Homo sapiens: one gene and its partner. The protein of the gene in region 2 purifies or fractionates together with the protein of the main gene of each other region. This does not show direct contact. Each region holds a gene or a part of one and is shown on either strand. Other genes may lie near its edges. The genes, in order: MINDY1 and GRTP1.

Region 1 (7,803 bases), on a different chromosome or scaffold from region 2:
TTCAGAATAGTTAATGGGGGAGAAAAATAAACGAGACAGAAAGCCAGAGAGAGACAAACCCTCTCAGCAGAGAAAACAGGAACAATACTGATGCCAGGACTGCAAATTTCTAAGGAGAGCCAGCTCCTGATTCCTGCCTCATGCCTGAGAACTGCACACACTACATTATCCAAGGGGTCCTGGATGAACACCTAAACTGCAATGCAGCCCCACCCTGAAGCAAAGATTTCTCCCCTCAGAAGTGAAAGATGAGTCACCATAAATAGGACATTTGGTTAAATGATTTTTTTTTAATGGAACATCCTATTGTCTCTGTGGCAGAGGCTATAGAAAATTTCTGTGGTATCAAATACTAAAAATATGGTAGCAACGGGAGACTTGGCTGGATTACCAGCTGTCTTTATCCTGCACAAAGAGGAGCATTCATGATTTTCTGAAAGTTATAATTAAACTGTAGTTTAACAGAAACATTCAAACTTAAGAGTGTATCTGTCTAAATCACCTCTCTCTCTTTACACAAGAAACTTAACGGTGTCCTCTGGAGAACTGGATGGAGAGGAGAAAAGAAAAATGATCTTTATCTTTTTCATTTCATATCCCTTTGGTATTTAAATTTGTTCATGAAATACACATTTACTACTTCTATAATTTAAAGCAATCTAGGCTGGGTGTGGTGGCTCATGCCTATAATCCCAGCACTTTGGGAGACCAAGGCAGGCATATCACTTGAGGTCAGGAGTTCAAGACCAGCCTGTCCAACATGGTGACACCCTGTCTCTACTAAAAATACAAAACTTAGCCAGGCATAGTGGCGCACACTTGTAATCCCAGCTACTCAGGAGGCTGAGGCAGAAGAATCGCTTGAATTCGGGAAGTGGAGGTTGCAGTGAGCCTACTCCAGCCTGGGCGACAGAGTGAGTCTATCTCAAAAAAAAAAAAAAAAAAATTAAAGCAATTTAAATTGTTGGCATCTACCAGTATGTCTTGCCATCAGTTCCCCTGTTAACCTTCCTAGAGTCTAATTTTCTCATTTCTCCAGGCCCTGGAGAGGCTATGTGATGATGCAAGCTCTAAGACACAATCTCACCTTTCACAAGTTCACAAGTTTGAAAGGAAGATCTAGATCTTGCTCCTTGGGGGATGAATGCAGGGAGAGAAAGGTCGAGATGCCAGCAGTATTGGAAAAATCAAGTATTTTTCCAGCTTCATATTGCTGTAGAGAATATACTATTCGGGCTGGGTACAGTGGCTAACACCTGTAATTCCAACACCTTGGGAAGCCAAGCCAGGGGGATTGTTTGAGTCCAGGAGTTTGAAACCAGATTGGGCAGCATGGCGAGACCCTGTCTCTATAAAAATACAAAAAATTAGCCCTGCGTGGTGGCACTGCCTATAGTCGCAGCTTTTTCGGGAGGCTGAGGTGGGAGGATCACTTGAGCCGGGGAGGTGATCACACCATTGCACTCCAGCCAGGGCAACAGAGTGAGACCCTGGCTGAAAATAAATAAACAAATACAAAATAAAAATAGAGAATATACTACTAACCTGGGGGTCGGGGGAGGCTCTGGAGGATATATGCTGGAGAGTAGATGCATGCAAAGAAATACTATTTGGTGAGGTTTCAGGTCCAAGGGCACTTTACCAAATGGTGGAAGAGACCAGTCATTTGGGTTACTGGGGGGTAAAATCCAACTGTTTAGCACTTAGAACGGTGCCCCAAAAACTCTACATTAGTCCTCCAATAAGCGCCCTGTGGTGGACTCAGAGGTAACAAAAAGGGATTGGTTCCAAATGGCCTTATGCATTGAAATAACTCCCCAAATTTGTTTTTCACAAGGAAAATGTCTATGTAATTGGTGTTAAAATGGACCTTCTCCCCAATTCAATATGAAGACAATTCATTTATTCCAGCAGCTGAGTCTGCAGCAGGAATTAGTGACTTTCAGGATTTGTTAAAGACCAGAATCTGTCCCTCAGGGGAATTTGTAGAGTTTAAGATATCTAAAAAGGAAAGCTCAGCAAGCCATCTATCTAGGTTTCTTCAGGGCAGTATAACTCAAAGTAGAGGGGCCGGGTGACCTCCTGGAGCCTGTCTCTGGTTAGCTTTTTGCTGCTAACTGGGGATAACAGCCTAATGCCTCATGACGGCTCAGCATGGCTGGGTGAGTCCAACTGAGTCAGAGAGCACCAAAAATAAGCCACAAAGCATTGAGTAGTCATATTTATGGTTTTGATTCCAAACACACTTTGTGCTTATCCCTTCCAAGTGGAGAATTTTTATGTCATTTGTGTGCGTTAAGGCCAAAGGAGAAACCTGGAGGCAAAGGAATGCTGGTTGTGGGTCAACAAATATGCCTGATGGATTTTGTATGTTTGGCTTAAAAACACTGACTTAAAGTAAAATACTGTGACTACTTCTAACCTAGAAATGAGTTCAGCCCGCCAGACAGAAACTGCCATTCGGAGGAAATAAGGCCGTGAGCACCGGTTCCCTCCACACCCCCGAGGTTCACCTGGAGGCCAGTGGGCCAAGCGAAGCCTTGGGAGCGGAGAACTCAAAGAGGGGCGGGGAGAAAAGAATAAACACACCTCGCGGGGCTAGGCTGGCGGCGGCACAGTCCTGGTTTTTTTGATGGAACTGACCAAGATGACAGCAAGCAGAGGCTCAAATGCAGGATTCAGACCCAAGACTTCTCCCCGCTCTCAGGCGGACCCCAAAGGCGGGGAGCCAAAAACCGGGAGACTGAACAAGCAGCATTCTCACGCTCCTAAACTGGCTTCTCGCTCCTCGCTCCTCATGCCCCAAAACTGATCAGGCCCCAACCCCCCTCCCCACAACTCAGTGTTCCCTCCACACGGACCGTCGAGGCTCCCCCAGATCCCACGTCTTCGTCCTTCCTGGACCCCGTGCTCCATTCCTTACAGTCACAGACAGGGATTCGTTACCTGCAGAGCAGCTCGACAACCCTGCAGGTAGTCCTCCATGATGAAGCCCAAAGTACGCCGTCGCCCCTGGTCGAGTAGAGGTGCCCCTGGTCGAGGAGAGGTTTCCCCGACGAATGCAGCCCGCCCGGGACTCAGGGACTAGAGGCCAGAGTCAGGAGGCGGGACTCGAACCCGCCACACGGCGAATCGGCCTCCGACCCCGGGAGGAACTGCGTAAGCGGGCGCTCCGGAGTCCGGCGTCGCCCCGCCCCCAGCGGCGGAGGCGGGGCTCTACGCCCAGAGGCTCCTGGGACGTCTTTCCGGCGAGGCCAAGGGGGCGTGGCGTGGGGCGACGTGGGAAACGTAGTCCCGCAACTCCGCAATGTCCCTAGCAACCGAGGGAAGGATTGTTTTCTGAGGGATCAGTCGTTCGGTAAACAAATGTGTATGTGTCACAGTAACCCATTATTGTGGCATCTGAACTTTCCCTCTCAGATCAGGCCAAGTATAACATCTTTACATATATCACACCGAGCATCTGGTGACATTTTAAATGACACTTGGCAAAACAGATCATCTTCTTTCTACAAATTCTGCCCTTTACCAAACTGACTCAGTCGCCACCAATTTTGTGGTTGTTCATGTTAGGAGAACATTAGAATAATCTTTGACCCCTCTTGTTAACACCTACAGTCTCCTGCCAACTCCTGCTGCTTCTCCCTTTGCAACTCTGTAGCCTGTTTTTTTCTACAGCCTCGGCAAATATCTTCTTCCTTTCTTGGACGGTTGTAACCTTGGCTTTTTGCTCTCTGCCACCCTAATTGTTCCAATTGCTCTTTCAGCCTTTAGAGTTGCTTGAAATTTCATCCTGTGGCGGCCCTGTACATAGAGTTTAGGGAACCCTTCAGAATGTGGAGTTAGGTTCCAACCTCCCTTAACTGCCACTTTCCAGCCGCAGAGTAGTGCAGGTACTGCAAATAAATGGACACTCATCATCAAAAATTCCCTCATTTATTTATCTATCCCTTTATTTCCTACCGTCAGCCTCACACCAGCTTTTCCTGCTTCCCCAGCTGTAAATCGAGAGGAGGTGACTGATGAGAGGCCTGCAGTGGAACCAAGATCCAGAGCACAGGCGTGTTGGATCTCCTGCCTGCTCTGCCAGTTCTTTTCTTCTTCTTCTTCTTTTTGAGACGGAGTCTTGCTCCGTCTTCAGGCTGGAGTGCAGTGGCAGGATCTTGGCTCACTGCAACCTCCACCTCCCGGGTTCAAGCGATTCTCCTGCCTCAGCCTCCCGAGTAGCTGGGACTACAGGCATGTGCCACCATGCCCTGCTAATTTTTGTATTTTTAGTAGAGATGGGGTTTCACTATGTTGGCCAGGTTGGTCTTGATCTCTTGACCTTGTGATCCGCCCGCCTTGGCTTCCCAAAGTGCTGGGATTACAGGCGTCAGCCATCGCGCCCAGAGCCTGGGGCTTCTACCACACCCTCTGCACTCTACCAGGTGCACAACCCAACCAGTTTCATTTCTAGACTTAAAAATGATACAGCAAGGACTTGGAAAGGAGCTCTCTGGAGGGCTCCAGAGGGAAAAGAGCTGGGTTTGTTTGTTTGTTTTTAACATTAATTGAGTAATACATGCAAATATCGTGCTCTTTGCTCCTGCTTCTGTGGATCCAGAGCAAAGGACTGCCATACCCAGAGAGAGAGCCCAGATCCAACAAGCTGCTTCTGTCCAGCCCTTCTCCTCCCTACTTAGCAAGGGCACTTGCTCTTCCCTATTCTCACCAGAGAGGCACAAGCGCTCCGTCCCTTCTAGAGGCAGGCAGAGGGAAGAGAAAGGGTCTGTTGTTTTTCTCTCCTGTTTCTCGCTCCCTCTCTGCTGATCACAAAGCTGCTGACCGGGTCAGAAAGTCCTGATGGAAATCCACCAGCGCTGGGCAGGCCCCTCCTCCTCCAGGGAGCTTGTCCTTGCCTAATTTTTCTTCGTCCTGATGAGAACAAAAAAGAGAGAGAGAAGAAAAGAAAAACCACAAACTTCCTTTGAAAACCAGCTTGTAGTCAGGGCCCGGAGCGCATGCCATAGACTCGGCGACTCAGGAATCCTGAAGACTCTCTGAGCGACCTGGAGCACCTTGGCTGTGTCCCTGCCTGCCTTCACCCTCCTCCAGTGCCCCCAGTACTGGGCGTGAGTCCGGAAGTGGCCACAACCCAGCCTGGACCGTCGCTTATAAAGCTGTGTAAACCTGTATAAGCTCAGGCGTTGACAGCTGGAAGGCAGCTGGCACTGGCAGCCCCCTTCATTGCACCTATCTCCCCCATCTCATTGCCACGGCTGAACCCTCCTTCTCAATCTTGGAACAGCACCCCCTTCTTTAAGGTAAAAACTTTATTTTAATCATCTTCTTCACCTCTTCTCCCACCCTTCTCTATTTCCTCTCCAGCTTTGGGGAGCTGACACCTGCTGTCCTTCCACCTTTGGTCTGCAAGTCTGGATTGCTTAGAGGAGCTAAGTCAGGAGAGACATGTAAAGGGGATGCTGCTTGGTCCTCCTCCTTTTAATGAAAGCACGAAACCTTCCCCCTCTCCTTGTGAGCAAGTATACAGGGCACTGTGGCCATGGTTGACATATTCTGAGATGAAAATCTAAACTATTGATTGCACAAAGACATAGGTCAGACTAAGAAGGAGATTGGTGTGAGACAGTAAGGGAACTGTTCCTACAGAGAAGGAGTGTCTTCTTGAAGCTACATACCTGTTTTACGTGCTTCTTCCAACTTTCGGCTCTCTACTGCCATTGATTAGGGAGGAGCCAGGATTATTTTAACTCCCTCACTCACCACCATAATTCCAGCTGGAGAGAAAGTGTAGGATTTGACGAGCTAAGAAAGAGGAGGAAAAGAATGAAACTTTGATTTATCTGACTATCCTCTCCCTCATTCTTTCCTACTCTGAAATACTCCATGCCCTCCCCAGCAGGATTGGACGTTGTAGAGTAGAAAGCCTCCATTACATTTCCTGCCCCTGCCTCTTAAGACTTAGCCCATTTAGCTCTGCCCAGTTCCTCTGAGACCCCACTCCCTCAGGTGTCCACTCCTGGGTTCCTTTGGCTCACCTCTCCAGCCAGCTAGCTGCCCAACCCCCACTTCATCATTGATCATTTCTGGCACTGGAGAGAAAATATAAAAAATAAGGCCTGCTTTTCTTTTTTTTTTTTCTTTTTTTCTTTTTTTTTTTGGAGGCAAGAGTCTCACTCTTGTCACCCAGGCTGGAGTGCAGAGGCACAATCTTGGCTTACTGCAACCTCCACCTCCGGGGTTCAAGCAATTCTCCTGCCTCAGCCTCCTGAGTAGCTGGGATTACAGGTGCCCGCCACCGTGCCCGGCTAATTTTTGTATTTTTAGTAGAGATGGGGTTTCGCCATGTTAGCCAGGCCGATCTTGAGCTCCTGACCTCAGGTGATCCGCCCGCCTCGGCCTCTCAAAGTGCTGGGATACAGGTGTGAGGCACTGTGCCCGGCCAAGGCCTGCTTTTCTTCAAGCTTTTTCACTTTTCCAGGCTCTGGCATCTGCTTTGAGGTTCACCCTAAGTGTCATTTAAGGGGAGAAGGAAAGGAGAGAGAGAAAGAGAGAGAAAAAAAAGCATAAGGCCTGCAGGCAATTTTTGCTACTCTGATTCTAAATTAACAACACGTAAATGATATGCAGCTAGCATAAACATATGTGAATCAAGAGGATAATCAATTTGAGTGACTAGGCTTATTTTGTTTCAGTAACTTTAATGTTCCTCAACCTCATCTCCCAGGCCTTCCCCTAGCCCCAAATTCCTGTAGGTTTACAAGAAGGAAGCAGTCTCAGGCTGGGAGGAGGGTGGAGAAAAGACAAGATTTCTAACTAGTTTAATTTATTTTATTTTATTTTATTTTATTTTATTTTATTTTATTTTATTTTATTTTATTTTTGAGATGGAGTTTCGCTCTGTCACCCAGGCTGTAGTGCAGTGTCACCATCTCAGCTCACTGCAACCCCCTGCCTCCCAGGTTCAAGCAATTCTCCCACCTCAGCCTCCCGAGCAGCTGTGACTACAGGCACGTGCCAACACACCTGGCTAATTTTTGTACTTTCAATACAGACAGCGTTTTGCCATGTTAGCCAGGATGGTCTCGATCTCCTGACCTCAAGTAATCTGCCCGCCTCAGCCTCTCAAAGTGCTGGGATTACAGGCGTGAGCCACCGCGCCTGGCCCCTAACTAGTTTAATTTCTCCCTGTTTCTCTCCCTGATAAAGAGTGGGAGGGGAGCAAGGAGATTGAAGGGAGATGTTTTCCAAAGGGCAGGATTTGTGGTTTTTTATTATTTATACCCACAGTATTAGTTAAATGTCTATCTGTGCTTGCCTCAATGTGCCTCCAGTGCTGATAGAGAACAGGTTAAACAGGTCCGGTGTTCACATCTAAAATGACCTGGAGAGGACTGGGCACGGTGGCTCATGCCTGTAATCCCAGCACTTTGGGAGGCCAAGGTGGGAGGATCACCTGAGGTCGGAAGTTCAAGACCAGCCTGACCAACATGGAGAAACTCCATCTCTACTAAAAAATACAAAATTAGCTGGGCATGGTGTTGCATGCCTGTAATCCCAGCTACTCGGGAGGCTGAGGCAGGAGAATCACTTGAACCCAGGAGGCAGAGGTTGCAGTGAGCCGAGGTCGCACCATTGCACTCCAACCTAGGCAACAAGAGCAAAACTCTGTCTCAAAAAAATAAAAATAAATAAATAAAACCACTTGGATGGGAATAGACATAAAACTTTAGGTAGGTGAATGTACAGGAAGTATTGTTATGTAAATTAATAATCAGCATTTTCATATTTCATAGAAAT
Region 2 (7,265 bases):
TGTGGCTGAGAGCGGACCTGGGAGGACCTCTGTGGCTGAGCGGATCTGGGAGGACCTCTGTGGCAGAGAGCAGACCCGGGAGGACCTCTGTGGCTGAGAGCGGACCCGGGAGGACCTCTGTGGCTGAGAGCGGACCTGGGAGGACCTCTGTGGCTGAGCGGATCTGGGAGGACCTCTGTGGCAGAGAGCAGACCCGGGAGGACCTCTGTGGCAGAGAGCAGACCCGGGAGGACCTCTGTGGCAGAGAGCAGACCCGGGAGGACCTCTGTGGCAGAGAGCAGACCCAGGAGGACCTCTGTGGCCGAGAGCAGACCCAGGAGGACCTCTGTGGCTGAGAGCGGACCTGGGAGGACCTCTGTGGCTGAGAGCAGACCCGGGAGGACCTCTGTGGCTGAGCGGATCTGGGAGGACCTCTGTGGCAGAGAGCAGACCCGGGAGGACCTCTGTGGCCAAGAACAGATCCGGGAGGACCTCTGAAGCCGAGAGCAGACCCGGGAGGACCTCTGTGGCTGACAGTGGACCCGGGAGGACCTCTGTGGCTGAGAGCAGACCCAGGAGGATCTCTGTGGCCGAGAGCAGACCTGGGAGGACCTCTGTGGCCGAGAGCGGACCCAGGAGCACCTCTGTGGCTGAGCGGATCCGGGAGGACCTCTGTGGCAGAGAGCAGACCCAGGAGGACCTCTGTGGCTGAGAACAGACCCGGGAGGACCTCTGTGGCTGAGAGCGGACCTGGGAGGACCTCTGTGGCTGAGCAGATCTGGGAGGACCTCTGTGGCAGAGAGCAGACCCGGGAGGACCTCTGTGGCAGAGAGCAGACCCGGGAGGACCTCTGTGGCCAAGAACAGATCCGGGAGGACCTCTGAAGCCGAGAGCAGACCCGGGAGGACCTCTGTGGCTGAGCGGATCTGGGAGGACCTCTGTGGCAGAGAGCAGACCCGGGAGGACCTCTGTGGCCAAGAACAGATCCGGGAGGACCTCTGAAGCCGAGAGCAGACCCGGGAGGACCTCTGTGGCCAAGAACGGACCTGGGAGGACCTCTGAGGCCGAGAGCGGACCCGGGAGGACCTCTGTGGCCGAGAGCAGACCTGGGAGGACCTGTGTGGCTGAGCGGACCTGGGAGGACCTGTCTGGCCGAGTGGACCCGGGAGGATCTCCGTGGCTGAGAATGGACCCCTTTGAGTGGACAGTGCTACTGGACCTGGGAGAGGGCGACCATGTGGACAGTGTGGACACATGGAAATGCAGGTGGGTGATCATCGTGGAGAAAAAGCAGAACATAGCCAGGCACAGTGGGGGATCCCAGCACTGTGAGAGGTAGAGGCAGGAGGATCGCCTGAGCTCAGGAGTTCAAGACCAGCCTGGGCAATGTGGCAAAACCCCGATCTCTACAAAACATACAAAAATTACTCGAGCGTGGTGGCGCACCTGTGGTCCCAGCTACTCAGGAGGCCAAGGTGGGAAAATCGCTTGAGCAAAGGAGGTTGAGGCTGCAGTGAGCCGAGATCACGCCACTGCACTCCAGCCTGGGTGACAGAGCGAGACCGTGTGCACTGTGTAACTCTACACATATGCCACACATTGAACTGTGTTGCCCGCCCCAAAATTCATCTGTTGAAGTCCTAACCCCTAGTACCTCAGATTGGGACCTTGTTTGGGAAAAAGACTGTTGCAGATGTCATTACGGATGGGGTCATGGAGGAGTTGGTGGGCCCTATCCAAGCCTGGTGTCCTTGTCTTACGTGGAGCTTTAGACACAGGCATGCACAGGAGAACGCACATGGAGATGGAGGCAGAGATTGGAGTAGTGATGCCACCCGCCGAGGGGCACCCAGGACTGCCAGGAACCAGCAGAACCAGGGCAAGGCCTGGGACAGTCCGTCCGTCACAGCCTCAGAAAGAACCCGCCCCGCAGACGCCGCGACCTCACCTGCCCCGCAGATGCCGCGACCTCTGATGCACAGCTTCCAGAGCTGAGAGAGAATTCGTTTCCACTGTTTACCAGGCTGTGGCATTTCCTTAGGGGCCCACAGCAAGCTAACAGGTGCACATCTCCGCACACACATGTACGTATGTGCCTGTAGGTTCCAAAAGCCAGCTGTGCTCTGGCATTCTGTTAGTATGTAACATTGTGTTTGTGCCTTGTTTTTTAAGAATAGAGATGGGGTCTTGCTCTATTGCCCAGGCTGGTCTTGAACTCTTGGCCTCAAGCAAACAATCCTCCTGCCTTGACCTCCCAAAGTGCATGATTATAGGCAAGGGCCACCCAGGTGGGTGGTGTTTTTTTTTGTTTGTTTCTCGGTTTTTTTCAGACAGGGTCTTGCTCTGTTGCCCAGGCTGGAGTGTAGTGGTGCCAACATGGCTCACTGCAGGCTTGACCTCCCAGACCCAAACGACCCTCTCACCTCAGCCCCTCGAGCAGCCGGGACCACAGGCGTGTGCCACCACACCCCGCTAATTTTTAAAAATATTTTGTAGAGATGGAGTCTTGCCACCTTGCCCAGGCTGGTGTATGCATTTTAATAAAGCTGTTTTTAAAACACAAAGGAGCAGTAAATAGAATGATGTAGAGGATTTCTTGCCCATTCTACCTCAACTCCAGAAGGCCACGTTCTTGCTCCTGGACAGTCATAAAAGTGAGGAATGGCAGGAATTCTGTCTGCAAAGGAGGGACTCTCCCAGCTTCACCCGACACGGCACTGCCAGCCAGCTACAGAGCCACACACGCACAGCACGTGGAACAGCTGGTGAGGACAGCGTGGTCCCGTGGCTCTGCTGCTGGCCTTTCACAGGGCGCTCCTCACGCAACGTCCACCCTTTCTCCTCGGGAGCATTCACTCTGCCAGGTGCCAGGCCCAGGGCTGTCCAGGCAGGGGCTCCACACTCCTCCAAACGTTCACTCAAACTGCATTTTCTGGTTGGTGCACGCCTGGCTCCCGGCTCCTACAGGAAGTTTCTGGGGGCATCACTGGGACTGCTAGGTTCGAACCACCCATCGCGACGATGTCCTTCCCTGTCCTCCTAGAAACGTTTAAGCCAGCCACAACCCCTAGGAGCCCGTGAAGCACATGGCCTAAAATGCCAGGAACGCACTCTCCAATCCCGGTGGCAGCCGTGGGCTCCAGGCTCTCAGCCACGGGGACTCACAGGCAGTCACGGGCTGTGCGCACACCTGGAAACCCTCGTGGAGGCCAGCCCTGCCCAGATGCCTGCCCTGCCCTCGGCGAGCTCAGACAGACTGGAACAGCACCACCAGCGACAGGCCCAGGCAGGACACACAGGCTGGGAGACTGCACGGCTCCTGGTTGCCCTGCATTCCGGCCTGTTCACTCCACTAGTTACTAACAGCAATGCCCTTAATATGCGCCCAGCTAGGTGGCCTCCGGGAGGCGCAAGGACTCTCCCAACTGCAGCTGCTGGTTCACACCACGGAGCCAGCCAGGGGATGACAGTGTAGACAGCAGACACTCTGGGAGTGGCCTCAGAGGACGACACACACCTCACAGCACATGCACCCCATAGCACACACATCCCACAGCGCACGCACCCCACAGCGCACGCACCCACAGCACACATATCCCATACACACACCCCATGGTGCACATGCCTTCCAGCATACACACCCCACAGCACACACACCCCACAGCACACACACCCCACAGCACACATATCCCACAGCACACACACCCCACAGCGCACGCACCCCACAGCACTCGCCCTCTGTGTCCCGTGCTGATTCTCCTCCCGCCACCTGAGGCCGGAATGAGGTCGTCGGCTGCTGCTCCCTGTCCTCCCTGCTGGGAAATGGCGTCCGAGCCTCAATGGGGCATCAGGACGTGGAATTCATGAACAGGGTTGACAGAGACGTGAGGCCGTCACTGCCGAGCCTGCAGCTGTGGACAGACCTGTCCTCACAGCCACCTCATGGCGTCAGAGGGTCCCGAGGCTCACCTGGCAGTAGCCCACTCCCTGGTTATGGTGCCCATATGCCAGCAGCACATTGTACAGGGTCCTCTGTAAGCAGGGGTCCGTGGTCTTCCGGAACTTCACGTTGTCGGGGAAGGTCCGGTTCAGGTCTGTGGGAAATTCAGAAGGAATCACCCACGGGTTTCTGTTCCACAAGCCTCCCACCCCTCCAGCTGCCCCGAGGGTGGCCACCTGGGTTCCACTTGGGACTTACGGACTGGTTTTCACCCTGGCCGCACAGCAGACTCAACACAGCCAGAGCGACAGGCTCACTGGGCCAGGAAGGAGGGGGTGATCCTGAACTCGGGGCGGAGAGGGGCCCTAACCGTCCTTCCCGCAGAGTCAGGGACAGCAGAGCGACCCCAGAGCTGGTGGCCAGGCCATGGCACTCCCTCCTCAATGCCCGTCTCCTCCCGGCCCCCAGCACAGGCCTCCTGCACCTCGGACCTCGCGCGTAGCGGAGGCAACTCTGCCTCGAGGACCCAGGGTGACAGGTGGAGAGAAATGCACACAAAACTTTGAGGTGTTTTCCTAATTTCAAAGATCCAAAACAGAAGGAGACAGAATAAATTGAGACTCCTCAGAGATAAAGGACACGGCTGAGAGCTGAGAGCTGAGAACTGAATAAACCTCGAGTTGTCAGCTTGTGTGTGCAGGAGGCATCCCTGCCGGCCTCTTCCTTCCTCAGCACCAACCCCTCCCACTGTCCCGCCCAGGCATCTCTTGGCAGGACAGTGTGGCCTTGGCCAAGCTGTTTAGTGCTGGGGGACCCGGATACCACGTGGGTCCCTGAGACTAACCAAGCCTCACGCTGACCAAGTGCCAGGCCTCACTGAAGCTGACCTCCGCGTTAACCCTGGACACAAGCCGAGCAGGAAGGATAATGCCGGCTTGACAACTCCACTGGTTTCTGCTCCCACTGGCCCTACCTCTGTTAGAGGTGTTCGCCAGGCACCCCATGCGGTCACCAGCAGACAGCCGCTTTCTGCACAAGTTCCAAGATGGACTCACAGCAGTCCCCGCCAGCCATGACGCTGAGATGGGTGTACACCCAGCTCTGGAGGAACCCAACCGCCTGTGGTCTCTCCACAACGGCTGCAAAATACTGTAAGTCTGTTTCCGACCTCTGGCCCCAGGCCTTATCTTTGCTTACAAAAAACTAGATTTGGGCCAACATTAGTTCAATGCCTCAGAGCACATTATTTCTCATTGTGTGTTTTCTTACAAAAGAGCCTTTTTTTTTTTCTGGAATTCTAAACATTCCAAAAAATGGAATCAGTCAAGGGGAAGTTAGTATTTTTGCTATTTCAGACTAGAGTGACCAGCTGTGTTCATTTATATGTAATATTTTTATTGAGTTTTCTATATTTATATATATATTTATATATATTTATATATTTTTATATTTTTATATATATTTATATATATTTATATATATTTTATATATATTTTATATATATTTTTATATATATTTTATATATATATTTATATATATTTTATATATATATATATATTTATATATATATTTAACACAGGGTCTCACTCTGTCACCCAGGCTGGAGTGCAGAGGTGCAATCACGGCTCACTGCATCCTCGACCTCCAGGGCTCAAGCGATCCTCCCACCTCAGCTTCCTGAGTAGCTGAGACTACAGGCACACACCACCATGCCTGGGCTAATTTACGTATTGTTTTGTAAAGACAGAGTTTTGCCATGGTGGCCAGGCTGGTCTTGAACTCCTGAGCTCAACTAATCCGCCTGCCTCAGCTTCCCGAAGTGCTGGGATTACAGGCGTGAGCCACCACACTAAGTTTCTTGATATGTTTTGATAACATCCTGTGGGAAAGGAGATGGCTCCATCTCCATTGTGGAGACAGAAGAGCATGGGAGCTTTCTGTCTGCACTGCGTGGCCTGGCATTGGCTCTGTGGGACTGGACCATCCACTGCATGGCTCCTGAAAGATAACTGACCAGGTGGCTCCAATTACTAAGCACAGAACTGTCATGGATCCAGCAGCCCCACACTCTAGGTAGGAGCCCACAGCTGAAAGCAGGGACCCAGTAGAATCCACACTCTGGGTAGGAGCCCACAGCTGAAAGCAGGGACCCAGCAGAGTCCACTCTAGGTAGGAGCCCACAGCTGAAAGCAGGGACCCAGCCCCACACTCTGGGTAGGAACCCACAGCTGAAAGCAGGGACCCAGCCCCACACTCTGGGTAGGAACCCACAGCTGAAAGCAGGGACCCAGCCCCACACTCTGGGTAGGAACCCACAGCTGAAAGCAGGGACCCAGCCCCACACTCTGGGTAGGAACCCACAGCTGAAAGCAGGGGCCCAGCCCCACACTCTGGGTAGGAACCCACAGCTGAAAGCAGGGACCCAGCAGAATCCACACTCTGGGTAGGAACCCACAGCTGAAAGCAGGGACCCAGCAGAATCCACATACCCAGGCTCACGGCCATGCCACCCATAACAGCCGTGCGGCAGGAGAGCCCAGGGGTCCACTGATAGATGGATAAATGAACAAAATGTAGTCTGCCCATGCGTGGAATATTATTCACCCTTAAAGAAGGAGGAAATTGTCACACAAGATGCAGTACAGAGGATCCCTGAGGACTGAGGCGAGGGAAAGGACCCCAGCTGCAGAGGACGCAGCCCACGGGACTCCTCTTATGTGACCCTGGAGTTGCCAAAGCACGGAGACAAGCGTACAGTGGGACTGCCAGGGGCTGGGCAAGGACACGGGGGTCGGTGCTTGACAATGGGGATGGCACAGAGACAAGCGCACAGCGGGATTGCCAGGGGCTGGGTGAGGACATGGGGTTCAGTGCTTAACAATGGGGAAGCTCCCAAGAGCTTCAGCTTGGGAAAATGAAATGGTAAATTTTATATTAGGCATATTTTACCATAATTTAAAAAACAATTCAGCCAGGTGGGTGGCTCACTCCTGTAACCCTAGCACTTTGGGAGGTGAAGGAGGGCGAATCCTCAGAGCCCGGGAGTTCAAGACCAAAACCCCATCTCTGCAAAAAAATAAAAATTAAAAAATGAGCCAGGTGTGGTGGTGCACACCTGTGGTTCAGACCACTTCCAGCTACGCAGGAGGCTGAGGCAGGAGGATCGCTTGAGCCTGGTAGGTCACGGCTGAAGTGAGCTGTCACTGTGACCGCACCACTACACTCCAGTCTGGGTAACAGACTGACACCTGTCATAAAAAATAAAAAAATTCATCCAAAAAACCACAAAACAGAGACTTTAAATGCATTTTTCAGACAGCAGTGCTGTTTTAATATGCACCCCCAC

What was found.
Region 1: the proteins of GRTP1 (region 2) and MINDY1 purify together in Homo sapiens (affinity purification with mass spectrometry; 2 studies listed by BioGRID and IntAct, with this or other methods). This does not show direct contact.

What each region holds. Positions count from the first base shown.
Region 1 is NC_000001.11:151,003,815-151,011,617, reverse strand, and holds the start of MINDY1 (ubiquitin carboxyl-terminal hydrolase MINDY-1), read left to right. Parts: upstream 1-4,715; 5' UTR 4,716-5,306; intron 5,307-5,312; exon of another isoform or gene 5,313-5,462; coding exon of another isoform or gene 5,463-5,517; intron 5,518-7,803. Other genes in the region: exopolyphosphatase PRUNE1, read right to left, coding at 2,947-2,985. UniProt on the Homo sapiens protein: Hydrolase that can specifically remove 'Lys-48'-linked conjugated ubiquitin from proteins. Has exodeubiquitinase activity and has a preference for long polyubiquitin chains. May play a regulatory role at the level of protein turnover.
Region 2 is NC_000013.11:113,346,901-113,354,165, forward strand, and holds part of GRTP1 (growth hormone-regulated TBC protein 1), read right to left. Parts: intron 5,071-7,265; exon of another isoform or gene 4,773-5,070; intron 4,074-4,772; coding exon 3,949-4,073; intron 1,352-3,948; exon of another isoform or gene 1,279-1,351; coding exon of another isoform or gene 916-1,278; intron 86-915; coding exon of another isoform or gene 1-85. Other genes in the region: MAGE-like protein 2, read right to left, coding at 1-85, 916-1,278. UniProt on the Homo sapiens protein: May act as a GTPase-activating protein for Rab family protein(s).